4 linked regions of the Homo sapiens genome follow. The protein of the gene in region 4 interacts with the protein of the main gene of each other region in a pairwise test. Each region holds a gene or a part of one and is shown on either strand. Other genes may lie near its edges.

What was found.
Region 1: the proteins of MOB3C (region 4) and IKZF4 interact in binary tests that used the Homo sapiens proteins (3 or more experiments, as listed by UniProt).
Region 2: the proteins of MOB3C (region 4) and NT5C2 interact in binary tests that used the Homo sapiens proteins (3 or more experiments, as listed by UniProt).
Region 3: the proteins of MOB3C (region 4) and PTPN21 interact in binary tests that used the Homo sapiens proteins (3 or more experiments, as listed by UniProt).

The regions. Positions count from the first base shown.
Region 1 is NC_000012.12:56,023,653-56,031,205, reverse strand, and holds part of IKZF4 (zinc finger protein Eos), read right to left. Parts: exon of another isoform or gene 7,536-7,553; coding exon 7,442-7,535; exon of another isoform or gene 6,211-7,441; coding exon of another isoform or gene 6,153-6,210; coding exon 6,048-6,152; intron 4,426-6,047; coding exon 4,165-4,425; intron 3,427-4,164; coding exon 3,259-3,426; intron 1-3,258. UniProt on the Homo sapiens protein: DNA-binding protein that binds to the 5'GGGAATRCC-3' Ikaros-binding sequence. Transcriptional repressor. Interacts with SPI1 and MITF to repress transcription of the CTSK and ACP5 promoters via recruitment of corepressors SIN3A and CTBP2.
Region 2 is NC_000010.11:103,091,884-103,099,436, forward strand, and holds part of NT5C2 (cytosolic purine 5'-nucleotidase), read right to left. Parts: intron 7,102-7,553; coding exon 7,048-7,101; intron 6,206-7,047; exon of another isoform or gene 6,165-6,205; intron 5,492-6,164; coding exon 5,408-5,491; intron 4,098-5,407; coding exon 4,056-4,097; intron 2,573-4,055; coding exon 2,465-2,572; intron 2,156-2,464; coding exon 2,089-2,155; intron 1,427-2,088; coding exon 1,256-1,426; intron 1-1,255. UniProt on the Homo sapiens protein: Broad specificity cytosolic 5'-nucleotidase that catalyzes the dephosphorylation of 6-hydroxypurine nucleoside 5'-monophosphates.
Region 3 is NC_000014.9:88,467,962-88,475,514, forward strand, and holds part of PTPN21 (tyrosine-protein phosphatase non-receptor type 21), read right to left. Parts: intron 5,842-7,553; coding exon 5,704-5,841; intron 4,505-5,703; coding exon 4,283-4,504; intron 2,390-4,282; exon of another isoform or gene 2,090-2,389; coding exon 1,961-2,089; exon of another isoform or gene 1,907-1,960; coding exon of another isoform or gene 1,886-1,906; intron 1,773-1,885; coding exon 1,538-1,772; intron 1,116-1,537; coding exon 955-1,115; intron 305-954; coding exon 176-304; 3' UTR 1-175.
Region 4 is NC_000001.11:46,606,995-46,614,140, forward strand, and holds the end of MOB3C (MOB kinase activator 3C), read right to left. Parts: intron 6,378-7,146; 5' UTR 6,328-6,377; coding exon 5,910-6,327; intron 3,211-5,909; coding exon 3,008-3,210; intron 2,691-3,007; coding exon 2,661-2,690; 3' UTR 725-2,660; downstream 1-724. UniProt on the Homo sapiens protein: May regulate the activity of kinases.

The sequences.
Region 1 (7,553 bases), on a different chromosome or scaffold from region 4:
GATCTCGGCTCACTGCAACCTCTACCTCCTGGGTTCAAGCGATTCTCCTGCCTCAGCCTCCCAGTAGCTGGGACTACAGGCGCCCACCACCATGCCCAGCTAATTTTTTGTATTTTTAGTAGAGACGGGTTTCACCATGTTAGCCAGGATGGTCTCAATCTCCTGACCTCATGATCTGTCTGCCTCAGCCTCCCAAAGGCTAGGATGACAGGCGTGAGCCACCATGCCCAGCAAACATTTATCATTTCTTTGTATTGGGAACATTCAAAATAATCTCTTCTAGCGATTTTGAAATATACAATAAATTATTGTTAACTACAGTCATTCTACTATGCTGTGGAACACTACAACTTATGCCTCCCATCTAACTGTAATCTTGTACCCATTAACCAGCCTCTCGCTATCCACCTACTCCCAACCCTTCTCAGTCAGCCTCTGGTAACCACTGTTCTACTCTCTACTTTTTTTTTTTTTTTGAGACGGAGTTTCACCCTTGTTGCCCAGGCTGGAGTGCAATGGCGCGATCTTGGCTTACTGCAACCTCTGCCTCCTGGGCTCAAGGAATTCTCCTGTCTCAGCCTCCCGAGTAGCAGGGATTACAGGCATGCGCCACCACGCCTGGCTAATTTTGTATTTTTAGTAGAAACAGGGTTTCTCCATGTTGGTCAGGCTGGTCTTGAACTCCTGACCTCAGGTGATCTGCCCGCCTTGGCCTCCCAAAGTGCTGGGATTACAGGCGTGAGCCACCGTGCCTGGCTTTTTTTTTTTTTTCCCCAAGATGGGGTCTCACTCTGTCACCCAGACTGGAGTGCAATGACATGATCACAGGACACTGAAGTCTTGACCTCCCAGGTTCAAGTGATCCTCCCTGTCTCAGCCTCCTGAGTAGCTGGGACTACAGGTGTGTGCCACCACACCTAGTTTTTGTTTTTGTTTTTGTTTTTGTTTTTGTAGTAGAGACGAAGTCTCACTATGTTGCTCTGGCTGGTCTCAAACTCCTGGGCTCAAGCGATCCACCCGCCTTGGCTTCCCAAACTGCTGGGATGATAGACGTGAGCCACTGCACCCAACCTACTCCGTGCTTCTATGAGATCAACTTTTTTAGCTCCCACATGAGTGAGAACATGCATCCAGTCTCTTTTTTCTTATAATAGGGGTTGCAACAGAAAGCACTTCACAGAGATGGGACCTGACAGTATATCTGTGTCTGCTTCTGTTGTTAATAATCTACAGATCAACATCCAAAATCTACCCAGTTCACCTCACTGTGTAGTTGGTAAGAATTCTAGGGGCCAAGCCATCCTTGTTCCAAACCAGCAGGGGGAGCAGCCCCTTTTCTGAGGAAAAGGAGTATGTATTTCTGGCACTGGACCTTGATGGGGTTCCAGCTAGGCTGAAGAATAGCTATGTGACCCGCAACTCATTTTTCCCCCCAACAGCTTCATTTTCCTTGTCAACAAAATGGGGATAATCACATCTACCTTGGAATTGTTATGAGGATCACATGGAGAAACACAAGTGAAATGCTCTGTAGATATAAAGCATGTATCAACGATGATCTTTCTCCCTGTTTCTCCACATACATAGAGATAAAGAGGTCCCAATTACAAGGTGGGAGAACCTGGAACAAGGTAAGTGGATGGAGAAAGTAGAGGGTGATGAAATGATTGCTCTGTCCCTTTAAATCCTGGCTCAGGAGAGTTTAAGAAGAGAAAAATAGCCAGGAAAGTTTCCAAGGACAGACCCTACTAATTCTTTCCCCCTTCCTTTCTTCCTGCCTTTTCCCAATCTTGAGCTCCCTCCTTCCTGCCAGCTCAGCTCCTGGCCTCTTCCCAAGTCCAAGCCAAAAGCCTAAAGCTTAGTAAAATGCCTAAAAAGTGCTATCTGTCCAGCTGATTCAGACAGATACTGATTCAAACAGTCTTGACTGGGCTAGAAAACCTTGTTAATCCAGTTTCCCAGCACTGTTCCAAACATTGATCTCTAGGTACCCTCTGGACTTTCTCTTGCCTCTGGGAAGGTGACAACCTCTTGGGATAGGGAACAGAAATAGGATACTCTTTTCCTATTTGGAAGTCCTAGGCTCCCTTTTTTGCAATTTGAGAGGGCTATGGATATTTCCAGGAGCCAGAAGGAAGTAAAGGAGAGGACAGACTGGTTGCTCAAGACCTCTGGTGGTGTGGGAGGAAGGAGGGTGAAGATGATGACAGGTGTGGGGCCTGAGGCAGATGGGAGTGAGAGGAGGGATTTCCCAGGGGCTTAGATGTTGGGGGTAATAGGGCATGGATTGTGGCATCAACAATCTAAAATATAAAAGTCAGGAAAGCCCAGGCACAGTGGCTGACACCACGCCTGTAATCCCAGTACTTCAGGAGGCTGAGGTGGGCCGATTGCTTGAGATCAAGAGTTCAAGACAAGCCTGGGCAGCATAGGGAGATCCTGTCTCTACAAAAAAATAGAAAAATTAGCTGGGTGTGGCAGTATCCTTCCAGCTACTCAGGAAGCTGAGGTGGGAGGATGGCTTGAGCTCAGGAGATCAAGACTGCAGGGAGCCAAAATTGCACCACTACACTCCAGCCTGGGCAACAGTGTGAGACACCGTCTTGAAAAAACAAAAAACAAACAAAAGTCAGGGAAGGGTGACTTTTTTTTTTTTTTTTTTTTTTTTTTTTTGAGACTGAGTGTCGCTCAGTCGCCCAGGCTAGAGTGCAATGGCGCGATCTCAGCTCACTGCAAGCTCCGCCTCCCGGGTTCACGCCATTCTCCAGCCTCAGCCTCCCAAGTAGCTGGGACTACAGGTGCCTGCCACCATGCCCGGCTAATTTTTTTTTTTTTTGTATTTTTAGTAGAGACAGGGTTTCACCATTTTGGCCAGGATGGTCTCGATCTCCTGACCTCGTGATCCGCCCATCTTGGCCTCCCAAAGTGCTGGGATTACAGGCGTGAGCCACCGCGCCAGGCCAAGGGTGACCGTTAACAGCCAAGAACATTGCTCCTATTCCTTTTGCTCCAAGTAGATGGATTTTACATCCATATGGTGGATGTAAAATACCCCATCAAGGTGTCTCCCAAATTTCCCATGAAGCCTTGCTGCCCAGAGGATGGGTGAGAGAGGCAGGGGGCCCTATCTGCTCTGTAAATGCTCCCCCCTCCTCAATGACAGACACTGGAACTCCCCAAATACAAGAGAAGTCACTGAGCTCTACATACTGGGTGTGTTGGAGCCTCATTCCCTCCTCCCACTGGACAGACACTGACCTGAGTGTGTGCGGAGGTGACCAGTGAGTGCATCACGCCGGCGGCAGGCATAGTTGCAGAAGGGACATTTAAAGGGCTTCTCCCCAGAGTGCAGCTTGATGTGGCGCAGCAGGTTCCCCTTCTGGGTGAAGGAGGCACCACACTGGTTGCAATGGAAGGGCCTTTCACCTGCAAGTGAAAGAACAAATCCCAGAGGACTGCATGTGAGGAACTTTGAAGGTTGAACCTATCACCCACCCTCTGCCCTACCTTGCCCAAGGGAAGGTGCTCTGAACACATTGCTGACGGGCAGAAGTGCAATGCACACAAACCCTGATTTATGAAGATCCCTTGGGGATCCCTGGGGTCTTACCCTGGGGAAGGTGTGGATTAGAGGTGTGTGGCAGGGAGAGGGGCCTGGAACACGAGGCCAAAAGACTGTTACCAAAAACTGAGCCCCACAGGGCCCACTCTGCCCTAGGAGCCCAAGGCCCAAGGAAGCTGAGAAGAGAAGGCTTTTGTTTTCTGTTTTGTTGTTGTTGTTGTTGTTGTTGTTTTTTAATTATTAGATGGGAGGGCCCAAAGAATACCCAGGAGTCTTACCCCTATTGGACCATTGGCTCATTCTTGAGTCTACACTTTCCCCTCCCTCATATACTGAGAAAAATATCACCTTTTCTTTATAACAGCGGTTGAGGAGAGTGCCAGGAAACTAAAGGTATTGAGGGGAATTCAAATTCTGTACCCACCCCCACCCTGCCTCGTTTTGTCAGCTGGAAAATGTGCTGGGTGAGACCCTTCCCTTTCTGAGGCTACCCACTCCCTGCATGACCTCCTCCAGCCCCATACCTGCTGTTGTCCCAGCACTGCCCCTGCCTCTCAACCCCACCCTGGGAGCTCCTCCCAGAGCCCCTCTGGCTTACTTACCAGTGTGACTGCGCTTGTGCACCATGAGCACGTTGGGTCCAATACAGACCATGCCGCAGACGTCACACTTGAGCTTGCCATTGGGCAGCCGGATGCCCCCAGGGGAGTGAGGCTCTGGCCCACTCCCATCACAGTAGCCCAGGGGCTCAGACAATGAATCTTCCACAATCACGCTGTCGTCCTTTTCCAGGAGCCGCTCATCTGGCCCCAGCAGTCTGCTTGACTCCTCATCGCTGTACATCTCCACCTTGATGGAGTTGGCTGAGGGGTGGGATGGTGTTTAGAATAGAGAGAGGCAAAGGGGGAAGCTGCTCCCAGGCCAGAATGGCACTCTTTTTTTTTTTTTTTTTTTGAGATGGAATTTCGCTCTTGTTGCCCAGGCTGGAGTGCAGTGGCACGAATTTGGCTCGACGCAACCTCCACCTCCCAGATTCAAGTGATTCTCCTGCCTCAGCCTCCTGAGTAGCTGGGATTACAGGCATGTACCATCACACCCAGCTAATTTGGTATTTTTAGAACAGACAGGGTTTCTCCATGTTGGTCAGGATGGTCTCGAACTTCCAACCTCAGGTGATCTGCCTGCCTTGGCCTCCCAAAGTGCTGGGATTACAGGTGTGAGCCACTGCGCCTGGCCCAGAATGGCACTCTTAAAGTTTAAGAGGGTGTCTTTAGGCCCTGAGACATTCAAGCCTTAAATGGAACTAACACCCTAGTATCCCTGCTGCTGATATCAGAATCCTACTGGAACCTGAGACAACCTTTTCTCCCACCCACCAGGCAAATAGGCTTCAAGAGAAAAAAGTTGGGCCGGGTGTGGTGGCTCACGCCTGTAATCCCAGCAATTTGGGAGGCCAAGGCGGGTGGATTCTTTTGAGGTCAGGAGTTTGAGACCAGCCTGGCCAACATGGTGAAACCCTGTCTTTACTAAAAATACAAAAATTAGCTGGGCATGGTGGTGTACGCCTGTAATCCCAGCTACTTCGGAGGCTGAGGCAGGAGAATCGCTTGAACTTGGGAGGCGGAGGTTGCAGTGAGCTGAGATCACGCCACTGCAGTCCAGCCTGGGCGACAGAGCAAGACTCCATCTCAAAAAGAAAAAAGTTGGGGGTACATAGGATGTCTTCTGTCGCTGAGGAGAGGAGGCGACTAAGGGGAGCTTTTTTCTCTACTCTCTTGTCATGAAGAAAGATGTCTGGCTTGGCCCTGGGCAGGAAGCCAGCAAGTTAACAGTGGCGGGAAAACAGATCTAGGAAGACTGAAGGGGGACAACAGGCCAAAGAGAGCAAACCTGGAAGACAGACATGCTTACAGTTCCCTCCCACCTCATTAGATTGAATCCCTCTACCCCCTCCACCTCCATAAAACTCTGAGGCAGGGCAGGAGGGGTAAAGGAAGGAGGAACCATTGAGGAGAAGGCTTTGGCTCTAGCTCCGACCTACATTCCTGGCTACTCCAACCATTTAGAGAATGTCACAGATCTAGGGCCAGCTGGGGAGAGGCAGTCATGGGGACCCTGTCTGGGTAGGAGAATGAGCTGTGGGGAGATGGGGAGGTCCTTCTACTCTCTATTTCCTATCTAACTCCATCTGATGACCATTTCTATCTACCTGCTTCTCTAATTCCATAATTTCTCTTTGAAACTTTTACCTTAATCCCACCCATACCTCTTTTAATTCCACCCTAGTCTGCCAGTGACTGACTATTCACTCTCCTTTCAGAAGCCAGAAAAACCCTAGACACTGGGCTCCTCATTGCTCTTAGAGACTAAGCAGGAGACCAGCAGGAGGTGACGATGGGGAAATGGTTGCCAGTGGAAGGTGAATTGAAGGCCAAATGCAACAGGGGGTGCCTACTGCCAGGAGGTGGTAGGAGGTTACACTTACCACTGAGTGAGCGGCTAGGAGAAGAGTGCTGGCTGTTGGGGGTGCTCACCGAGGGCCCCACTGGGGCCCCGAGGAACTCCTTCTCCAGAGATGAGTCCCCGCTACCTTGGAGGAGAGAACAAGAGGGCAGGTAAAGCTGGAGCTGGAGATATCTACTGTCCATTGCCTAATCTTTTAAAAAAATTCAGTTAAATTTCACAAACATTTCCTTCATAGCCATGTACAAAGCAGTGTTGTATGCTGGGCACCATACCTTGTGCCCCCGCCAGTCTGGATGCCTGGTGCTGCCTTCTGTGAGCTCAGTGGCTGGGCCTTGCCTACCCTACCTTTATCTAGGCCTGAGGGCAAGAGCATCACTGCCTGACGTCCACAGGAAGCAGGGCTGAGGCTGGGTGCGCCAGGGCGGAGAGGAAAATGGGGGCTGCAGAAGGGACAGATGTTCAGGACAGACATTCTTCCCTACTGTTCCTCTCTGGAGCCCCCAGCCGGTTCAGGATCTGCAGGAAAGGTAACTGGAATTGTCCTTGAATCTAATGATAATATTAGTAATCATCATAGCAGCTAATAATATTAATTGAGTACTTACTATGTGCCAGGCTTTATTCTGTGCACTTGAAATGAATAATTTCATTTAATCCTCACAACAACTATATGAAGTAGGTGCTAATATCATGATTTTTTCAGATGAGGCAACTGAGGTACAAAAGAGGTTATGTTAGTTGTCTAAGGTTACATAGCTGCTAGTGTGGAACTGGGATCATAGACAGTAAGCGTCCATGTCCTTAACCAGCACCTACACAGCCAATTGGTGGTCACAATCTTAGTAGGGAAGAATTGGGCCTCTTAGACTTTCTAAATTCAGCAAAAATTTGATTACTCTAGAAAGTCTCCTACTGATCTGATTCCAATCACGTGTTTACTATTTGATATTCATTGACAGTTAAGTGATCAACTTATTCTCAGTATATTTGTTTTAATTTTCTGATAAATTGCTTTGTAAAAATGCTTTTTGAGGCTTTCATAATGTTTTTCAAAATCAGATAACATACCTAAAGGAAGATATGAATGTCTTTTTTAAAAAAATCCCTCCTCCCCACAATCTTCTACACAAATATATAGGTGAAATAAAAATACATGTAGATAAACACACACAGAGACACAACACATATGTAGATACATATAAAGAGAACATACCTATTGGGATAAACATACTGGTAGCCTTCTACATTATCTGCTAACATGAACATGCATGGATGTGTGCACACAGGCCTAAATATGGAAGAGAGAAAGAGAAAGCAAGGGAGAGTGCAAGAAAGAGAGAGGAAGCCTAAAATTCATCCCTGAAGTCCACCTATTAGTACTTTACCCAATTGCCCAGCTATGCACATACTTACTTTCACAAAATAAAGATTCCATTATAAAATGGTTGGAGTCTTGGGCCTGAGGCAAGAAATCCGGAACACACCCTCCTGAGGGATCCCTCTCCAGCTTTGGTCAGTGGGAAGA
Region 2 (7,553 bases), on a different chromosome or scaffold from region 4:
ACGCTCATTCTGAGCTTGTAAAGTACCAGAATTTACATGCTGTCTCAGGTGCAGTCAGCTAAGCAAATGTTAACAGTCCCATTTTCAGATGAAAGATTGAGAATCAGGTGACTTTTCCTGAGTCACAGGTCCAGGGCCAAATCAACTAGATTTCTAAAACTTCATAGGTAGAAAGTTGAAAATGTGAATGAAAGGCTAGCCAGAAAATCCCACTGATAGTACAGACAGTAACAGCAACAGCCAGCATCTACAGCATGCTGCCGGTGTGTTGCAGCCTTTGTCAGTCTGGGTTCCTCAAGACAAGCCCTCCTTCATCTACTGTATGTAACACATTTTCTTCTATCTACCATCTTTAGGAGAATTGAGAAAAGTGTTACTCAAATAATTTTCTGTATTCAGCTCCATTGGAAAGGTAAAATAATAGTAATAATTTTCTGTGTTTCGGATATGGAGCCTTGGTTGAGAAAGGCTGTCATGTCTATCTTTATACACATATTACCTCCGTTTTTCATCAGCTTTAGGAGGTAGGTATTATCCCCATTTTTACATTTGAGGAAACTAAGGCACAGGGTATCTCATTAACTTGCCTAACGGCATGCAGATTTCAAGTTATGGAGCCAGGGCTCCTACCCCAGGCAGGCTGAGTTTCCGGAGTCACCTTCACCACACTGCAGGTAATGCGCATCAAGGCTGGCTGGAGAACTTGTATATCAAGCACTTTTACAGAACTATATCCGTAACTCAGTTCAGCACAGTGTGTATACTGCATATACACAGCATAGCTTAGTTCAAGAATACAATATGGCCTCATTCTCTAGATCTCAGAAGAGTAAATAAAAAATACCAGAGGTGATTAACATTCAGAGCCATCACTGCCCCAGAATCACAGATATGGGCTGTTAGCAGAGAGACTGGGACTGCTAGGCATGGTTGGGGAAATATGGGACCACAGAGGAAAAGTTGAGCTCCAGTTCACAACTTAGTGTTACTGTAACACAACTCAAGACGCCAACATTCTAAACTTAACCTCGAAGAGATTCAAGAAGGTTAAACAAGATAACCTCTCATATTTATTCAAATTCTGGAGTTCTGTGAAATATCTGAATATTCTATGGGAAGGAAGTATCCAAATATCAAGGCCTGCCTTTTGACCACCTCTGACTTCCTGAATACAAAGTAATGGTTTATCAAAGACGACTGATTCAAAGCTGGTCATTTAGATATAAATTACACCAAAGATTTATGAATGGCTTACAACTCTTGTCAGTCCAGACATGTAGCTCCTGTGCGAGTTCAGGAATCACCAAAAAAGTTCGCCACCCTTGCCGTTTCTTTGATTTTAAAATGTCCCCAAAAATGTGATCTCCAATATACAAAATGTCTTTTCCCTTGGCTCCCAACAGGTCACAGATCGTATCAGAAGAACCTGAACCAACAGAGTGAACAATGAGAAAACTGTCCCTATATTAAAATCAGCATTCCAATAGTATTTAACCATTAAATACTATGATTCATTTTATTCTTATATGAGGAACAGACTAGGAAGAATAGACAAAGACTCACCATTCTCTTTTTACTGCCTTCTAAGACAAGGCCTTCAGCTCCACTGTGCTGACCAGAGCTCTTGCTCACCAAATCCAAGAGCAACAAAACTACATCCTCAGCTTAGTGAAAATAACCTTCAAAACAGCCACTGCCAATTTCATCACAAATCTGCCATTAAGCTGGCTTTACTCAACTGTTTATAACTCCAACATACTATGTACCTATACCCATGGAACTCCTTGAGAAACCCTTGAGAACATATTGAGAAGTACCCCCAAGTGATTCGAAGCACTGAGAAAAAGCCTCCAATAGGATTTAAAAAAAAAACTGATCATTTTAGTGAAAATCAGATTCATTAGGATATACTAACAACTGCTCAAACCCAGACTCCTATTGCATTAAGAGGTGACTAAACTATTTACCTTCAGTAGATGACATCTTAGACTACTAAACAGTATATGTGGCACTTTGCTGAGAGATTACCAAAGCTTTCACTGTGAGGTCTGAGCAAAGACATTAAATAAAGGGAAGTCTGTGACTTACCTCCTGAGTAGACGATACCATGCTGTAGGGGCCCTGTGTAGGTACCAATTTTCAGCTTGCCAGTTTTCTGTATGAAGAATATGGATTTTGTAATACTTTATCATCCTATCACAATCCTCCCCTCACCCCACAACCCTCCCATCCCACCCCCCACCACCAGTGCTACTTGGCCAGACAGCCAAATGAATGGCACTTACTCTTTTCAATTAGTGGGTTTGTTTGACTGTTTCAGTTAAGACCAAAACTCTTAATTTCAAAAGAGAGATACGGCTAATTAAAAAAAAAAAATTCCTGTTTCCTTATGTAGAGTAAGAGTGGGGGAAGGAGAAACATTAAGGACAATGTGCTAGCAAGACAGATCATTCTCATGACTTACAGTATCCACCTGACGCAGTACTGTGCCTTCTCCAAAAAAGAGTGGTTTCCGTGCATCCACCAAGATCAAGTCAAAGTAGGACTGCCATGGTCGATGGGAGCTCCCAGGCTGGTGAAGGAGAAACAGCAAAAGTTGAAACATCACTCCTTACCTTAAGGCATTACTATTTAATCTCACTCAGATGCAAGGAATATAAAAATACTAAGTATAGCCAGAAGATCCCACTATTTTATTTTTTAAAAAGGTATTGTGTCAGCCAGGCACAGTGGCTCACACCTGTAATCCCAGTACTTTGGGAGGCCGAGGCGGGCAGATCACAAGGTCCGGAAATCAAGACCATCCTGGCCAACATGGTGAAAACCTGTCTCTACTAAAACTACAAAAATTAGCCGGGCGTGGTGGCGGGCGCCTGTAGTCCCAGCTACTTGGGAGGCTGAGGCTCGAGAATCGCTTGAACCTAGGAGGGGGAGGTTGCAGTGAGCCGAGATCGTGCCACTGCACTCCAGCTTGGCAACAGAGCAAGACTCCATCTCAAAAAAAAAAAAAAAATTGTGTCTATGTATTATAAGCCATATCCTTTGGGAAGCAGACAAGATATAAATAATAAATAACTGTAATAACACATTCTATACATTAAATCATTTCATCTACTACTAAATTACAATACTTATTTTACAGCACTTTATGAAAGTGTGCTCACCTGAAATTTGCTAAAAGGAGCTCAAAAGAGCTAGGGAGAGATGCAAATCAATACCCAAGGGACAGATTAAGACAGAGGCAGGCATCAGAGCTAAAGTATACAAACTAACATGGAACTATTAGGAAATTTTACTGGTTACATTCTCAGAATGATGGCTCTAGGTACACACTGGCTTTTGGCTCACAGTGTAAGCTAATCACAATACTGAGTTATGCCCATTAAAATCATGACTATCCTGAAATGGAACCCTGGCATTAACCTTTTAAGACCAACCTGAAGGGCACTGCACACTGTGATTTCAGGTGTTCTCAAAACAGGGATTTGCTGATGTTTATTCACTAAAGTCTAGGACTAAAATTCTGTAAGTATGTGACTAAGTTGCAAGGAGTATTCCTTAAACCTAAGTGCAGCCGTACTGCAGAAATGAAGACTTCTCTGCTAAATATCAAGGCTGAGTGCTCTCTTGGCAAAAACTTAGCAACAACTAATACAAAATCTAGAAGTTGTCAAGAATACACATACATTTTCTGTTTCTGTTAATCAAATATCATCCACAACCTGAAAATTCCTTTCATTGCCACACAAACTTAATTTTGCATAGAACTTCTTGGGCATAAAATTATTCTGATCCCATCCTACTAAATATCACATGAATATCCCTTTTATTTCTGTCTATTAAGTATTCAAGTTGCGGACTCTAAATTAGCAATTTGATTTTAAATTCTACTAGCTCCTGGATTACTTCTAATGTTAATGAAGATTAGACAATAGGCTTAAAAAGTAGGACTTTTCTGGGTGGGTTCTGACCAATTCTTTCCCCCTTAATATTCCAGAATGATTAAATGCATTCATTGTTATTAAAGCAGTGGTCTATTGAGTCACATACGGTACCTTGGGGCCATGTGGGAAGTCAAACAGGTAAGTCATAATTTTCTGGAAAAAAAAATTTAACATAAGGTCCATATACTACTTTTGCAAAAGGTATATAACCTAAAGAAATTACAAGCTTTTCACAAAACATGTCTTTTTCAACATAGGACTCACCACATTCTTGTTTCCTCTAAATTTTATGAAATCATGGCAGTGGAAGCCAGAAATTAATGCTTTACCATATACCAAAAAGAAAAAAAGGCTTCTGACATTCTCAGGGAGGATACATACTTCCTCTGGAAGATGTTTTTGAACACACATTTGGAGGAAAGGAGCATATGAGGTAGGGGTATAGAGAAAACTAATGACTCACACAGAAATAACCTATCACCTTGGCTTCGCTACTGCCATCCCTAGACCAACTAAGTCAACAAACCAACGGTTTATGTAAGACTGTTTACTACAAATCACCAGGTGTCTAAATCAAGTTTACATGTACAGCGAATTGGGGGAAGTGGAACTTCTTGCCAGTACTATAAATTTTTAAGTGTCTCAGCAAAAGTAAGATGAAGTTAAGGAGTTAGATCAGTTTTTCCACATGCTTTAATCATGGGAAAAAACTGTTTTTAAGAGGTAGTAAATTTTGGGCTGGGCACAGTGACTCACGCCTGTAATCCCAGCACTTTGGGAGGCCAAGGTGGGTGGATCACGAGGTCAGGAGTTCAAGACCAGCCTGTCCAAGATGTTAAAACCTCGTCTCTACTAAAAATACAAAAAAATTAGCCAGGCGCAGTGGCAGGTGCCTGTAATCCCAGCTACTTGGGAGGCTGAGGCAGGAGAATTGCTTGAACCCAGGCGGCAGAGGTTGCAGTGAGCCGAGATCGCACCACTGCACCCCAGCCTGGGCGACAGAGTGAGACTCTGTCTCAAAAAAAAAAAAAAAAAAAAAAAAAAGATATATAAATTTTGACAGCTAAGAGCCAAAACATCTGTGCAGCATCTATTGCTGCAGGTCTTCCAACAGCAGGGAAAGTCATACATACACATCAATAAGGGGTGTGACTGCTCAAGTTTATAGAAATGATGCTCCAAAGAGACACAAAAGCCATTTTAATCTTTACAAATGTTTTAAATAACCCCAAGATTAAAATTTTCAAGTAGCCAATTATAATCAGTGAAAATGGTTAAAATAAATTTCTAGAAAAATTTGAGAACCACTGTTATCCTGTATATTTTTGCCTTTTTACTCTTTGAAAATGAGAAGGCAAGAAACTATTTTCACTTAATAAACTTCTATCTTCCTCATTGTCTTCACAGTTCTTTAGGCCAAAATAATTCCACTGCATAAATAAATATACACATGAAGCACTTACATCTGTATATTTATAGTCACTGTTGGTAGCAAGAAATACTTTCCCTACTTCCTTCATCCGGCTCAGAAGCAAAGGCAGTTTTCCCTGAAATGTAATTGGATAATGAGTGAAACACGAAAACATTTTTATCTTTACACTTTGGAGTTGTCAAATACTGGATTTCTGTCCACAACAGGAATGGGGGAACCTTTTAAGGGTTAGCTGATTTCAGAATTTTGCACTTAAAAGCCCACATTATCACTATAAATGAATAAAGTATTAACATATGTAGTATACACAGTGTATGTAATAGATTTACATGTAAAATTATACACATATTTATAGGGGTTATATGGCTGTTAACAACATATCTCTACCTTCCTCATGATGTCTGCCTCAGGAAAGAGTTTAAATTACCTTGAGATTTCTTGAAGTATGTGAGGTGTGTTAAAGGTCAGCAGAAGCTGATTTAAACATGCTCTACATAGAGATTATTAGATATGGCTTTCAGTGTGTACACTATGGTTTTATAAAACACCTTGCAGAATGAAATGACATGTGCAGATGCTACCTAGAAATACCCACACCCACGTGCGCTTAAATGAGGAAATTCTAACCCCTCATGTGCCTGGAAAGAAAAATATCTTTTCCTTCTCGCATAGCAAATAGATTCCTTCACTCAAATTCTCCCGGACCCTCCCCATTCAGTGTTCTTTCTTGAAATAAGGGAGGTGGGTGAAAATAGGAAGCACAAAAACTGAAAACAAGAAATCTTTACCACAGTACTTTGAGAAAATACTGTATTCTGCTACTTTTACTCTGTAGGAAAAGAAAGAAGTATGTCATCTTGGGGCACTATGTGTGTTTAATTTTTATTCTAAAACAGTTCTAGACTTATAGAAAAGCTGTGAAAATAAAGAGTTCCCATATATTCTTCCTCCAGTTTCCCTTAATATTAACATCTTATATAACCACAGTATAATTATGAAAAGTATGAAATTAACATTGGTACAATACTATTAACCACAGATTTTTTAAAAAATTTTATCAGGTTTGCCACTAATGCCTTTTAAGGTACTTTAAAGCTTTCCTCATTACTCTCTGTTGACAGGTTAAAGGCATTTTAAATAACAGTAACATATATGCACATTTTTGAGATGATCTAGTGCAGTAGTTATGATTTGGGTGTGACTTAGCTTTACTACTTACTAACTGTGTGACCTCTGGCAAGTTATTTAATCCCTCTATTTCTCAGGTTTTTTATCTATAAAACAGAGGCAACAATAATACCTAACTCAAGGTCATACAGAAGATTAAATGGCATAATGCATGTAATCACTTAGCATGGTGATGATGTGCATACAGTAAACCTCTAACTGCTATTATAATTGAAGCTAAGCGAACAAATGCAATACTGAGTCTTCTTGCCTATCAAGAAACAGGAAAAATGAAATACTGAGTCTTCTTGCCTATCAAGAAACAGGAAAAACTCTACTAAGACCTATGCTCTAGCTGAATATTCTTGGTGATTATACCCGACACATACTATGCCAAGACAAATCTCTTCTTTTGTCCATTTCATTATAAATCAGCTTGTTATTAATTTCCCTAATAGGTAAAATGAGCTATTATGCAGATCTATTTTCCCCTATATTACTTACATCTTTGACTACATACTTCTCAAGATTTTCAACTGTCTTTTCCTTAAGGGAGCCCTGGAGGAAGACAAAAAAAAGAATTAAGAAAAGAACAAAATCAGTTTTTAACATGTAGTTTATAAGAAAAATGGTTTTTACTAATCAACCCAAATCCTTTCTTTTTTTGAGACAAGGTCACCCTGTTGCCCATGCTAGAGTGCAGTGGTACAATCTCAGCTCACTGCAGCCTCGACCTCCCCAGGCTCAGGTGATCCTCCCACTTCAGCCTCCCAAGTAGCTAGGACCACAGGTCCACACCAACATGCCTGGCTAATTTTCTGTATTTCTTGTACAGACAGGGTTTTGTCATGTTGCCCAGGCTAGTCTTGAACTCCTGAGCTCAAGCAATCCACCTGCCTTGGCATCACAAAGTGCTGGGATTACAGGCATGAGCCATCATGCCCAGCCCCAAATGCATTTCTTAAGGATTTACCAAAATGGAAAAGTGGACAAACTAGAGAAGGCCAGAA
Region 3 (7,553 bases), on a different chromosome or scaffold from region 4:
TCAGCCTGTGCTTCGCACGTTTCCTTCAGCGTGCCGCCATTCAGACTGCGCCACTTACGTCCCAGTGCCACGCTGCGTGGATCAAGTGTCAACGGGAAAGTATGAGTTAGGCAAGCGCTTTTTTTTTAAGCTGTAAACGCTTCACATGACTGGCCCCGTAAGAAATTGTGGGAGCTTAGATGAGCCTGGAGCTTTTCAGGAACTGGATGAGGACTCTGTACACAAATGTGTACTGGCAGAGAGTCTGCACCAGCATCATTCTCTGTTGCCTCAGCATGTCCAGCACTCTCGGGATGTCCAGCACCTAGGTTGAGAGAAACGGTAATGAAGATAATGTGTTCCCCTGGGGAGACAGAAAGGATGGGAGGACACGAGTGTCCTGGCAGAAACCTGGTTGGGAGATGGACAGTCTCTTTTCCACCTTAGCGTCTTCTAGAAATAAGCCATGATTGCCTACTTCTGATTTTCTGATTAGTTTTAGCTATAAATAGAATGTCCATGCAGACTATTTCTTCAACATTCCCCAGGTGTAGCTCACTGACTTTGTATGGTTGGACATAATTACCATGTCTCACTAAATACCAAAATTATACAAAAACATAGTGTGCTAAGTGCTATCAGTATCTAGCTATTTCCCTCAAGGGCTCTGGGCAGCATGAATCATCCTTGAAATGTAAACAGAAAAAGAATTCTGAGCTCAAATTTGAAAAACCCTGGGCAAGTAAAACAAAATTAAACAGCTTTATTTATCGTATGACTTCTTAGTCTTTAATATGCTAATTGGTACTGAGACTCTCCAAGAAGACACAGCCTTTTGCAGGGAACATTAGTAACATCTTGAGGCCACCACAGTCCAAGGAAATGTGCGCAAAAAGAGCTATTAAGTCACTATGTCCCTCTCTTCCCCAGCCTCATTTCCACCCAAAAAGGCCAGGTGATCATAAGCGCCATCACCTCATTGTGTTCCAGGCAGGCGATCATGATCTCCGACAAAATCACCACGCCAGTCCTTCCTACCCCAGCACTGCAGTGGACCAACAACGGAGGGTTGGGGCTTTGGGGATCACTTGTGCTATTTGTATGGCGTCGAACAGACTGGATCTCTTCAAGATATGCTGTGGAAAATCAATGAAATAGAAAAGTACTCAAGGATCAAGGCGTATCACATTGTTGACTCAATCTTCATATTCTCTCCACTGATTAAGAGGACTGCAGATAAAGAGCACTGGGTGCCAGTGAACCAAACCCAACCACAAAGGGACAGTGTGACCCTGAGCAAGTCACTACCTCTGTCCACTTTCTGATCTACAAAATGAAATGACGGAGATACTGAGTCAGCTGTGGCATTCTACTCACTACCAAATCATAATTTATAAACCTCGTTAACCCTCCCCAAAACACTTGTATTCTTTATGTTAAAACAAGTCCGAAGCTTATATGAGATAACATAAAGGAAATATTTCGGAAACATAAATGTTCCTCTCTGTTTAACACCTCCAGAGGCAGCTGTCCTCGGAACAAAGTTAAAGTCACTCACATAAAAATCCCTTGAGGTCTTCTGGACAGCCATGTTCAGGCCAGTCTGTGTATTGGAGGTGCCAGACGGTCCTCTCTTGCCCAGTAAGGAGGTGCTTCATCTTCAGGCCTGTGGTGGCATAGCAGCCAGAGTCTGTGCGGAACCGGGTCGTGATCTTAAACCTTCCATAGGTGACAGTGTTGTGCCTGGAACCAAGTCGTGGCCAGTACCTAAAGCTCTTCTCCCTTCCACCCTCCTGTTAAAGATGAGCATGGTTAAATGACTCGAGATCCGGCAATGGATGCCTTTCTCACATAGACGGCACATCTGAAACAGAACCACAACCCTACCCTGCCTTTTTCTCCACAGGTCAGGATTCCAGATGATTAACATTAACTGTTCTTCAGAGGCTGAGAAAATCACTTAAGAGAAATAAGTACCTACCTCTTCTGCTGTCACCATTGCTATAATTGCAATTCCCTGTTCCCATACCATCTGCCAAAAATCTTGACAGGTATTCTGTAATGGTCCCTGTGTGGCAATATAATCCCATTCGATTCCACTGACAGAGACCTGGGATTAGAAAAGGTTAAAAAAATTGATGTGTGGGTATAATATACATAGGTATGTATGCATGCATTCATGGTAGTACTAAAAAAGTTTTTTTAAAAAAGTAAAAAGTAAAAAAGTAGTAAACTGGATTATTCAGCAGAATAAGGAAAGACTTTTCATCTTTTCCCTTGTGAATACAATTTGCATTACTGACATTTTTATAAACTTAGGTACTGTGAATATACATAATATCTATGCAACCTGTTTAACCTTGCTGAATGTCAGTTCTCATTTATACAATAAAGATACTGCCTACCGTCATAGGGTCATTGTGAGGACTGAGTCAGTATCTATGGTACCTGGCACATAACTCAATAAGTAGCTGTTATTGCAGACATGGTGCCTCTTCTTTAAAAAAAACCTTCCTACTTAAGATAGTCTCACCTCTGAACTTCTGAGTCAAGGTCACTCTCCACAATAATATTAAGTTTCCACTTCAGATTTAACTTCCTTGAGAGCAGTCTAATACAACAGTAATTACTAGATTTGTGGTTAAGAGACCTGGGTTAAATCTTGGCTTCACCAATATTGAGTGACGACAATAACTGTCTCCAAACACTCACTAAACGTAAAACCCAGTGCCAAGCCTTGTGCCACACGCACTCTCACTCAGGGCTGCCAGCCCCCTAGTCACCGCTCCACATCGTCTCACTGAGCACCCAGTGGCTGCCACTGTGGATGAGTACCAGGTTATAACAGTGAATAAACACTAGGGAGGAGGAGGGGACTAGTGAGAAGCTGGCAGGGTAGGTGTCATCATTTATTTATTTCCATGTAAGTGAGATGAGGTCCCACAACACAGCTTATAAAGTGAGGTCCCACCTCATTTTAGATCTAGGCGTCAGACCCAGGTCTATCAAATTCTTTCCTCTATTCTGCAAGTGGCTGCTGAAGATTTTGAAATATCACTACAGAACTACAGTATCATTCATTCTTATCCATCTAGTCATGAGAGACTGGATGAGTTATTTCAAGGAAATGCTCGGTTTTTAAGTAAATTATGCTGATATTATATTTAAAAACAAAATAGTATGTGCATAGATTCCCAAAAGCCATCAAGGGGTACTGGCATTCACAGGCAGACTGCCAGTCTCCAGAAAGCCTTGGTGTCAGCTTGTTCCCTTCTCAAATAATACTTGCAAACTAAAGAAAAAAACCACCACCTGTCCACAGTTACTCATTCACTCACCATGAGATTTCTCCTTCCCAAAATAAAGAATTGAATGTGGCCAGCATGAACAAAGGGTACAATGAGGAAGAGGGAACATCTGGCTTTATTCCATCATGTGTTGTGAATCATCATTTTGTCCATTTTCATAGGAGTGATATTACCCCAGATAAGGTGCCAAGAACATACACTAGGGAAGGACAGCCTCTTAAATACATGGGACTGGGAAGACTGGATATCCATAAGCAGAAAAGTAAAACTGGACCCCCTATCTCTCACCATAAACATTACCCCAGTTTAATGGCATTATACTGGTTCCAGGAAAAAAGCACTTCTTCAAAGAAAAAAAATGATACTTAAAAATTATTATAAAGAGTATGTAAAGAGAACAGATGGCACCTTGGTAAGTTGAAAGCTTTTGTGAACACCATCAAAAAGCCCAGACACTTTTGTTACATAAAAATGCATGTCAGTATGTGATGAGGAAAAACTAGCAATTCAGTGGCTCCCAGAATTTATGAGCTAAAAAGAGGTCTTCAGATTTAGAAGGACAAAGTTCTAAAGCCAGGCAACACAAGGTCAAGGCTGTAGGGAGCCATGATCATACCACTGCACTCCACCTGTCTGGGCGACAGAGCAAGACTCTATCTCAAAAAAGGCAAAAGAAAAAAAAAAAAGCCGGGCAAATAAGTGCGCCCTGAGTCCTGGTAACAGTGTTGGGGGCAGAGTGGTTTCGCACATGGAGAGTAGACATGACTTTGGCTCTGTCTGATAGACGCTTTTTATCTAGCACTGGTATGTGGATTTCCCAGCTTGCAGTACAGTTTGTCACAAATGTTTAAAACTAGGGTGTTTATCTAAAACAATACAATAAAAATAAATTTTAAAATATCTGAATTCTAAACAGACATGAATACAATTCTTACCATTCTTGTAACTTAACTGAAACTGCATGTGCTGTTGATTACTTGAGGCGTTCCTCTCACCTTAATATGTGATGCGTTGATGTAACCAGTGTTGTTTTCTTTAGTTGGGACCAACTCCACTCTCACATCATCATAAGGAAGAACATCTTGGAATCGATTTCTTTCTGCATTTTCAGGGAGTCGTGCTGTTGAGCACTCCCCATCAACTAGCCGTTTCTTAAGAATTCTTTCATATTCTGTGAATACCATTCCTTGTTCTAATCGTTGTTCCAGAATTTTACACTATAAAACAGAATATGTGTAATAACATGAATACAGCCACACGTCGTGGCTACCTTTTGACTGTATATTTGAAATCTTGTTTTCTGCTTCAAATCTAGCACTGTATAATATTGAAAATTCTAGGTTGGGCACGGTGTCTCATGCCTGTAATCCCTGCACTTTGGGAGGCCAAGGAGGGAGGATCACTTGAGCCTAGGAGTTCAGGACCAGCCTGAGAAACACAGTGAGACCCCGTCTCTGCAAAAAATTAAAAAACGAGCCAGGTGTGGTGGTGCATGCCTGTGGTCCCATCTACTTGGGAGGATGAGGCAGGAGGATTGCTTGAGCCCAGGAGGTTGAGGCTGCAGTGAACCATGAGAACCTATCTCAAAAAAACCAAACCAAAACCAAAACAGAAACAAAATTCTAGGTGAAAATGAAGTTAAAATTTTAAAAAGCCACAACAACAAGAGTTAAAAGAACAAAAGACAATCATTTTGGTGAGAAATATAATGCAAACTTTTGTTTAAAGTTGAAAATTGGCCTAAAGAAATTTGTTGAATTCATTTTCTCTAGATCTGTGGTCAATTTTGTGACCCCTAATAGATGGAATTCTCCTGGGGAACAGTAAGTAAATCTAGGGGACGGATAATGAGTTCCAACAGCTATGAACAAATGTTTCCATTTTATGTCATACGATATATAAAAGACTAAAGCAGTAGGAAATATTCGAAACTACCTCCAGGATCCCGTTGTAAAGCAAATGTATGCCTATCTGATTTTGATGTAATAAAACCTCATAGAAAATACACCTCAGGCACAAAGGAAGTTTTGAAAAATTGAGAAACTACTCTCGAGATAAACTTTCAGTATAATAAAAGTCAATGTCTGCTGCTTTTCCCCTGTATGCTCCTGTATTTTTGTAGATTTCTTCTCACTTTAAGGCCATCAAAATCAAGACTGCTCCAAAAGGCCAGGAGAAGGTAAAAAAGAACACTGAGAAACAAACAAACAAAAAATCAGCATTCGAACCTGAAATTATCTATTAAGACATTAGCTATACATTTGCCCCAATTTTGAGGCCCATATTACAAAATTCCTTAACACTCATTTATTATTAAATTGTGTTAGAAAATTCACCAAAATCTCATGAAGGCATTTGCGTAGTATTTACCGGTTGTTCCAGAGAAGGCACAAAGCCCTGTGTGTCCCATACATACCCTTTCATCATTCGTTGCTCTGGTAGCCACTTCCTTTCCTTCATCAGGCAGAGGCACTCGAGATAGGGAGAGTCCATTTAGGGCAGCCAGTTTAAGAGGACCAATTTTTTTTGCATCTACTCGAGTCTTTTTCATTCCCTGTAAAAGGATTTATATGTATATATGAAATATACACAAATACAACCCCTGTGAAAAGAAGTTTCAATGCACTGAAGACCAGGAACACACAGAGGGAGTGTTCTCCTTTGCCAATAAACCCAGAAAGATTACACTCCTTCACACACCACTTGTTTAACAAACATTAGTAGGAAGACATTCCTTTCAAGGCCAAAGCCCTGATAAAGTCTTCCAGATAGAAGGTTTTGAAACACTATTGGTTACAAAGTTCTGTTGTAATGAAAGGTGAGGCTCCAGGCAGACTGCATTCCTTTTAAAACAAGACAGACGTAACAAATCAGCTGAAGTCCAAAAAAAAAAAAAAAAAAAAAAAACAAAAGCTTTAAATGCAATCAATTGACTATAGTAAGCTTTTATAAATTTTTTTTTTGAGGGTCTCACTCTGTCACCCAGGCTGGATGGAATGCAGGGGCACCATCATAGCTCACTGCAGCCTCAACCTCCAGTCTCAAGCAATCCCACCTGAACCTCCCGAGTACCTGGGACTACCAGCACATGCCACCATGCCCAACTAATCTTTGTGTGTTTTGTAGAGATGGGGTCTCACTATGTTGCCCAGGCTGGTCTCAAACAACTGAACTTAAGCAGTGTTGGCCTCCCAAAGTGCTTGAGATTACAGGCGTGTGCCACCATGCCCGGACAGCTTTTTATAATTTTTAAAATATATAAATTCTTTAAGTCATTCTGAAAAATTAAATGGTTTCTGCAGCAGCCCCCTTTGTGTGTTAAGCCCCCTCCTCATATGCTACTCTGCATTCTAGTGCAGACTTAGATGACCCGGGTTAGATCACGCTACCTCTCAGAACGGCTACGTTTTTAAACAAGGAAAATAAAACAGGGCTAAAATCTCCATCATGACACCAGGAGGATAGGACAGAAGAGAAAGCATCAACAAAATCTTGTCTCCTGAAATCAAGTGTTTCCTAAAATTATTATTAGAGCATGATTTTCCTCTCTGAGAATAGTAAGCATAAGAACACTAAGTTGACCAGGTGCGGGGGATCACGCCTGTAATCCTAGCACTTTGGGAGGCCGAGGTCAGGAGATTGAGACCATCCTGGCCAATATGGTGAAACCCCGTCTCTACTAAAAATACAAAAATTAGCTGGGCGTGGTGGCACATGCCTGTAATCCCAGCTACTCGGGAGGCTGAGGCAGGAGAAAGGCTTGAACCTGGGAGGTGGAGATTACAGTGAGCTGAGATCGTGCCACTGCACTCCAGCCTGGAGGCAGAGTGAGACTCCGTCTCCAAAAAAAAAAAGAACACTAAGTTTCGTTGGATATACTACACTTCCTTGGATGATATCAATATAATGAGTAGCCCCAACTGGAAAATAATGGTTCTGCCCTGTAAACAAAATCCGTGTTATTCCAGCTCTCTCAGCCTGTAACAGGCCATGAAGCCCCATGATAATGGTGCAAGAACAGAGGGAAAAGGCAACTTGGTGAGAGAGGAAAAAAATCCTAAAAGATTGCTGCTGTAATTGGAGACTGTGATTGGTACCTAACTCAATAAGCTAAGTGGATTAATTTTTAATTTTATAATTAATATTTGATCATGAGCTCCCCACATAATGCAGTCTAGACTATAAACAGCAGAGGCCTGGGTTCACATCTGGCCTCTAACTGACCAACTTCTTTCAGGCAAGTCACCTTTCCTCTGTAAGCCTCAC
Region 4 (7,146 bases):
AGTGTTGGGATTGTATTTCCACTCTGTCCTTTTATCTACTACCTCAAAAAAAAACCACCCAGAGTAAGGGGCTGGAGTGAGAATAGCCAATGCCAGGCCAGGCGTGGTGGCTCATGCCTGTAATCCCAGCACTTTGGGAGGCCGAGGCGGGTAGATCACGAGGTCAGGAGATCGAGACCATCCTGGCTAACGCGGTGAAACCCCGTTTCTACTAAAAATACAAAAAAATTAGCTGGGCGTGGTGGTGGGTGCCTGTAGTCCCAGCTACTCCGGAGGCTGAGGCAGGAGAATGGCATGAACCCAGGAGGCGGAGCTTGCAGTGAGCCAAGATCGCGCCACTGCACTCCAACCTGGGTGACAGAGCAAGACTCCATCTCAAAAAAAAAAAAAAAAAGAAAAAGAAAAAAAAGAATAGCCAATGCCAGGCAACCTGAGATGAAACAAGGAACGATTCCTATCAGACTGAGTTCCCGGAAGGCAAAGAAAAGCCAGGCTTCTCCACCCCAAGCGTCCTAGCCTAGCTCGGTCTAGAATTTCCAGAGCCCCAGGAGAATCTTTGTGTCCCCACCCTAGAGAGCTGGGCCAGACATGACCACACCAGCCAGCCCTCCACATGGTCCAGTATCTCAGGACAAAAAGCCTTCCCAGCCCCATTCTGGCTCAGTTCCTTCCATGGTCTGCCAAGAGCCATGTGGCACCCAGATCACCGCTTCCCACCAGTGGCTGCTTTAGTTTGCCTTTTATTTTACCAAAAATAACAACAATAAAGTCTTCCCTCTGTTTCATAAAAATAAATTTTCCAACCCTCCCCCTATCCCAGAAATCAGCCCTTGCCACAGCCTAGAATCCATCATGCAAGTCACAGCACTCTGGGAAAAGCTCCTACTACCCTCGCTCCACAGCCTCTGGCAAAGCTGCCAGGCCACTCTGGAGGCGGCAGAGGCAGAAGTCCCAGGCCCAGCTGGCTGGGCCCAAGAGCTCCATCTGTTTCCCCAAAGTACAGGCAGCTTCTAGGCCATTGAGTGGGGCATGATATTGGATGCTTGGCTCAGGAAACAACCCCAGCCAACCCAAGGGGCAGTGGGACATGTTGGCCTCAGGTTAGAAATTATTGCTCAAAGCAGAAACAGTTGTGTCCTAGAGAGGGTCTGTTAAACCCTCTTTCCATGTGTATCTCTATGTAGCAATTGATGGGCCCTGCGGTCAGGATCCCTGGTTTCTCCAGCTCCATGAATGCCTCCCTGTGAGGCCCTGGACAGTTTCTCCCTCTTCTTCTCCTGGCTTCAGTTTCCCCGTATGTACATTGAGACAGTAAGACTGGATGATTCTCAGGTTCCCTCTGGCTTTCCATTCTGGCATCCCAGAGTGGAGGCTCTGGGAGGGCAGAACCCTGTTCCTGCCTCAGTTTCCCCACCTGTGGGTCTGCGTATAGGGCTGGGTATGGAGGTACTGAGTAATGGAGTGCTGCGTGAACATCCCAGTCTCCCTGTGGATAGCTGTGCTGTGAGATCCAACTGGCTGGAATGTGTCAGGGATGGCTGGGAAGGAGGCAGGTACTTTTAGGATGGAGGATCTCCATGCCTGGAAGAGTCCATTCACCAACTACATCCTCAATGTGCTGGGATGGGAGACAAGACTCCAAAGTTCCCAATTCAAGTTCCACAAGCTCCTTGGACGGGGAGATTATTTTGTGCTGGGCTTCAGATCCGAGGAGCCAGGTCTGTAGATTCTGGGAGCTAGAGTGGAGTATATGATTCCCAGATGAAGGGCCAGGGGACCTTTGTGTACTTGAGGGATCATCTCCAACCCCCAGGAGGACACGTATAATACAGGCCTTCTTGGAGGCAGAGGGATGAGTAAAATGTCAGCTCATGGGCATCTCTGGGTAAGAGAATCAGAGCCTGTGTCTGCAGTGGGTCGGTTTAGGAACTCAAGGCAAGGCTCCTCTTCCTACGTTCCCCCAGCTCTCCAGGACTCATGCTGATGGAAGAGTGTAGCCTGGAAGGTTTGAATGTAGAGCAACATCTACAACCACATTTTTGTGCACTTACACACATGGTCAGATACACTGAGTGGGGACGCTGAGCTGTCATCACTCCTACAGTGGTCATGGTCTGATGGTCCCATGGTCTGATGGTCCCAATCTATTTATCCATCCATCCAACATTTATGGAAGGCCTACTATGTGCCAAGGAGGGGTAAGGCAGCTAGCTCTCACAGACACACCCCACAGTGAAAATCACACACACACACACACACCCCGGCATCTGTGCTCACTCACAGGCAGACTGCTCACTTTCTTGCACCTTTCTTGCCATCACCTCGGCCACACCCACATTCCTCCAATAGGCTTGGGAACCAGCATGGAAGGGTCAAGTGTCATAGAAGAAACCCCCTAGCCTACCCTACTCCCAGACTTCATGCCAGAGGTTTAACTCCACTTCCCTTCTGTTTGCCTGCCTAGATGCTCTCCCCTTCTCCATCCACAAGCGGTCAGGGCGACAGGTAGGCAGACTCCTGAGAACCAGAAGTCCAGAGGCTTTGGGTGTGTGGAGTGATTCCAGTGCCTTCAGATTCCTTCAGGCTCCTGGGGGTCCCCTCTGCCAGCCACCCTATGTTCAGATCGTCCATCTGATGGCCAAAAAAGTCCAGACCTGGGCTCAGTGGCAGATCCGCTCTGTCATCTCCCTCTGTAGAGACACAAGGTAGGGAGGGGTCAATTAGAGCTCAGCCTACTAGGCAATCCCTTCCCAAACCATAGGGCCTAGCTGCTCTTCTGTCTGAGCCTGGCCTTCCCCCAGCAACCCCAACTCTTAGGCTGCAGATCTGGGTTTGTAAACCAACACTTGAATGAATTCTCTATTGAAGTACAGAATTCACTGTTAAATGAATTGCCTTCCCCTAATTCATCTACTTGGGCGTTGGAGTTACTTAAAGCAGGCAGCTTTTGGACGTGAAAACTCAGAGGCTAGCCTTGGTAGGGGAGGGTGGTAGGGCTTGGCCTCACCAGTGGCTCCAGCTCCCGCTGGTCCACCAGACTGAACTCGCGGATGAAGTAGTAGAAGTGCTTGTAGCAGGTGTTGACGTGCGCCTCTGCCCCCATGCTGAGGATGCTATCGAAGTGGTGGATGTAGACATGGACAAAGACTCGGAAGAGGCGGGTCAGGATCTTGGTGCAGACCTGCTGGAAGTTCTTAGGGAAGGGAACTCCTAGAGGGCAGGGGAGGGCAGAAGGGGATCAGTATCCTGGTGCCAAAGCTCTGCTCAACTTTTCCCTCCCACACACAGGCAACCAGGATGGCTTTTTCCCCAGCACACTTTTTAGTACACTTCCCTTTGGAAAACAGAGAGTGGTTTGACTTTCTCCCATACTTTTCTTTCTTTCTTCCTTTCTTTTTTTCTTTCCTTTTTGAGACGGAGTTTCACTCTTGCCCAGGCAAGTGCAATGGCATGATCTCGGCTCACTGCAACCTCCACCTCCCAGGTTCAAGGTATTCTCCTGCCTCAGCCTCCCAAGTAGCTGGGATTACAGACATGTGCCATCATGCCCAGCTAATTTTGTATTTTTAGTAGAGACAGGGTTTCTCCATGTTGGTCAGGCTGGTCTTGAACTCCTGACCTCAGGTGATCCACCTGCCTCGTCCTCCTAAATGCTGGGATTACAGGCATGAGCCACTGTGCCTGGCCATACTTTTCTTTCTAATGAAGCACAAATCTGACTGTGGCTCTCCCCTGCTGGAATATACATCATCTTCCACATTTTCCCATTACCTAAAGCAGGGCTTTGCAAACTTGTGGGGGTCACTGACCAACCCTTTTTAGACTATGATAAAAGTTACGACCTAAACTCTCCCCAGAAATATGTGCAATTGCAGAGATGCTCACATCACACTCTTGTATACAACTCCAAGGAGAGTTCAACAACTGGGTCCATTTAAAAAATCCCTGGGCCTTCAGGATTAAGTCCTAACTTTCCAGCAGGACGCTGCTCAAGGCCTTTCATGATCTTATCCTGACCTCCCTCTCTAGCCCCACCCCATGTCCCTCCTCTTTTCAACATTCACACAGAAGTCCTCAGACCCCCAATCCTGGAAATTATGAATTCTGCAAGAGTTAGTTCAGACAGCCCTCATTCCTTCAAATATTCAACAACACGAAGAACCTTCCATTTATGAGCAAGGCCTTGTGCTGGGCCCTTCACACCTTTTGCCTCTAATCCTTAGAACAATTCGCCTGATGTGTCTGATTGTCACTTTAGATATGATAAAACAGAAGTGCTTATAAAGGTGAAGCTGCTAGCCCAAGGCCACATAAGTATTAATCAGTGCAGAATGGAGACTGGATTCAGACCCTCTTTGCAGTGCACTGCAGCGACCCTCACAGATATTGGGACCCATGAAAAAGGCCCCGCTTCTGCATAGTCCCCCATGCTCAAGGCAGAGATCTTGGTGGCTTATGCCCTCTTCTCTGTGTGGCAGTCACCCAGGGTTTTAGGCATCGATACCTGGAGTCCCACAGGCCCAGGGAGGTATGGCCAGCAGGGACTATGAATCTACATTCAGGTCCACAGCTGGCCCACCCGGCTCTGTAGACCCCCTCCTCTTCCTCACCATTCCCAGGTGGGGTCGAGCCTTCCCTCCCTCTGAGCCCCTCCAGCCCAGCCCAGATTCCTCAGACATATCCTGCCCATGTAGACTTGGGGTCCTGGGCTCCCACAGATCTGAGCCCCAGTTCGGAATTCCTCCCAGTTCAGTGCACTTTCCCTCAGTAGCCTCAAGTTTCCTCCTATGTAAAATGAAGGTGCTCCTTGTCGGGCATGACAGTGCAAGAAACAGCAGGCCACTGGCTGGGGAGGAGCCGTGGGCATTGAATTGTGACTCAGTGCCCAGCTTCCTTCAGCATTCAGACTTCTCCCCTCAGGGCTTGACCACCCTGCCCCACCCACCGCTGATCCACACAGCCTCTGCAGAGATGAGCTCCAGGCCAGGTGGGGGCTGGGCCCAGCTACAGGTGCGGCTGGTGTGATGAACACAGTGTCATGCCTGCTCAGCTCCTGGACCAACAACCCCCTCCTGCTGCCCTCGGGTGGGTAAGCAGTGCCTGGGTGACATCACTCATCTCCCCTCCCTACCCTCACCCGCCCAGGCTGCCCAGCTGAGATAAGAAAAGGCCCCACAGCCTGTGCCTGGCAAGGGAAAATTCTGTCCTCAGAGCCCCAATCTGAGGTGATGATACCACCAGGGCCCACCCAACCACCAACTCCCTCCTTTTCCTGAGGCCAGGAGTCAGAGGGAACCCCGGGAGGCTGGAGGTCAAATCAGCTATGAACACCTCGGGGCAACTGTTCTGGAAGGTTCTGAGAATCACAGCATCTGTGGTCTTGCCAGAGTGGTCCTTGGTGGGACCACTTATGCTTTAGAAAAGAAAAGCCCTCTGAGGTGGGTGGATCACCTGAGGTCAGGTGTTCGAGATCAGCCTGGCCAATGTGGTGAAACCCTGTCTCTACTAAAAATACAAAAATTAGCCAGGCGTGGTGGTGGGTGCCTATAATCCCAGCTACTCAGAAGGCTGAGGCAGGAGAATCGCTTGAACCCGGGGGGCAGAGGTTGCAGTAAGCTGAGATCTCACCACTGGGTGAAAGACCGAAACTCTGTCTCAGAAAAGAAAAAAAAAAAAAAAGAAAGAAAGAAAGAAAAAGAAAAGAAAGAAAAGCCCCAAATTGGGAGTCAGGAAGTCCTAGCAAATGCTTGACCTTGAGCAAGGCACTTAACCTGTTTCAACCTCGCTTTCCTCTTCCACAAAATGGGGATGAAAATCAACCCCCAACCCTGCAGAGTGTCTATATCAAACTAAATCCTCATCTGTGGAATGGGCTCCCAGTGGCTCCCTCCCCGCCAGGTGACACTCACCAACACGCGTGGGAAAGACCTCTTCGTCGTTGATGAGGCCTTCGATCCAGTCCATGAGCAATGCCATATAGCGCGGCGCAGAGAGCTTGGCGGGCCGCCGGTACTGGCGCTCGTCCTGCCAGCGGTACTCGTAGCGGGGCCCGCCGGCCATGACCGGGCAGCTGGTCTCACTGCAGCGCTCCGCCATAGTGCCGTAGATGAGGTTGATGCGGTTGAAGAAGTCCACCACGTGCACGGCGATCCAGTCGTCGATGTTCTCCCCGGGTGGTAGCCTCACCACACTGCGCAGGTCCAGGCCCGACTTGAGAGAGGCCTGTGCCTTCTTGTACAGCTCAAAGCGCTGTGTGCCCGGCTCAAAGCGCTTCCGCGGCCGGAACGTCTTGTCCTTGGCGAACACCTGCTTCAGGCACAGGGCCATGGCCAGCTGGGCCTGGGGCTGCTGTCCAGGGGCTCGGACCTGAGGATACCCTGCCAGGGACAAGGGCATAGGGGAGCTGGCGGTCAAGGCCTTATCATCTGGGCTCTGACTTCCCAATTCATCATTTCCCTGTCACCTCTCAGCCTTTGCTCAACCTCTGCATCCTCTGCCTGGAATCTAAGTCCTCAGCCCCTAGGTCCAGTGCCCCGCCCTCTTTCCAGGCTATGTTAGTCCCCCTTGCTAAGCCCCCACAGTCCTCCCATCTTGCTTTGTCTCTTTTCTGCTTTCATTGCAGAGCTGGGCCTGGGCTCTAAACAGGTGCCCCTCAGACTTGCTGTTGGTCACGAGAGAGGTCGCAGAGGCTCCCTGCAGGCCCACCAGCAGACAGGGGCTTGGACGAGATGACCTCTGGGAGCCCCCTTGGCCAGCTGGTGCAACGTGGGAGAGCCTCGCAGCATTGTGCTGGGGGCAGGGTGGAGGGGGGTCGGGGGTGGCTTTCGGCTTCCTCTGGGATATCCCGTAGTCCATCCGGCCACCGGGGATTCCCAGGGAGCAGCAGGGAACTTTTCTACCAAAAATGTCCTTTCCTTTTTTTTCACCCTGAAAGAGGAAAGGGCCCTCCCGCTGCCAGCTGGGCGGCTTCTGAGTGTGGCTGCAAGCACTGGAGGAGGGGGAGGGCGGCAGGCCAATGAGGGCGTCGCTTCCTCTGACAACAGCTGGAGATCCTTCCCCTCAAGCCAGCCTCCTCCAGCCCCAAATCTGAACAAGCCACTGGCTCCTCCCGTTGCACCTGACACTCAGTAGACATTCCTCTAGCAA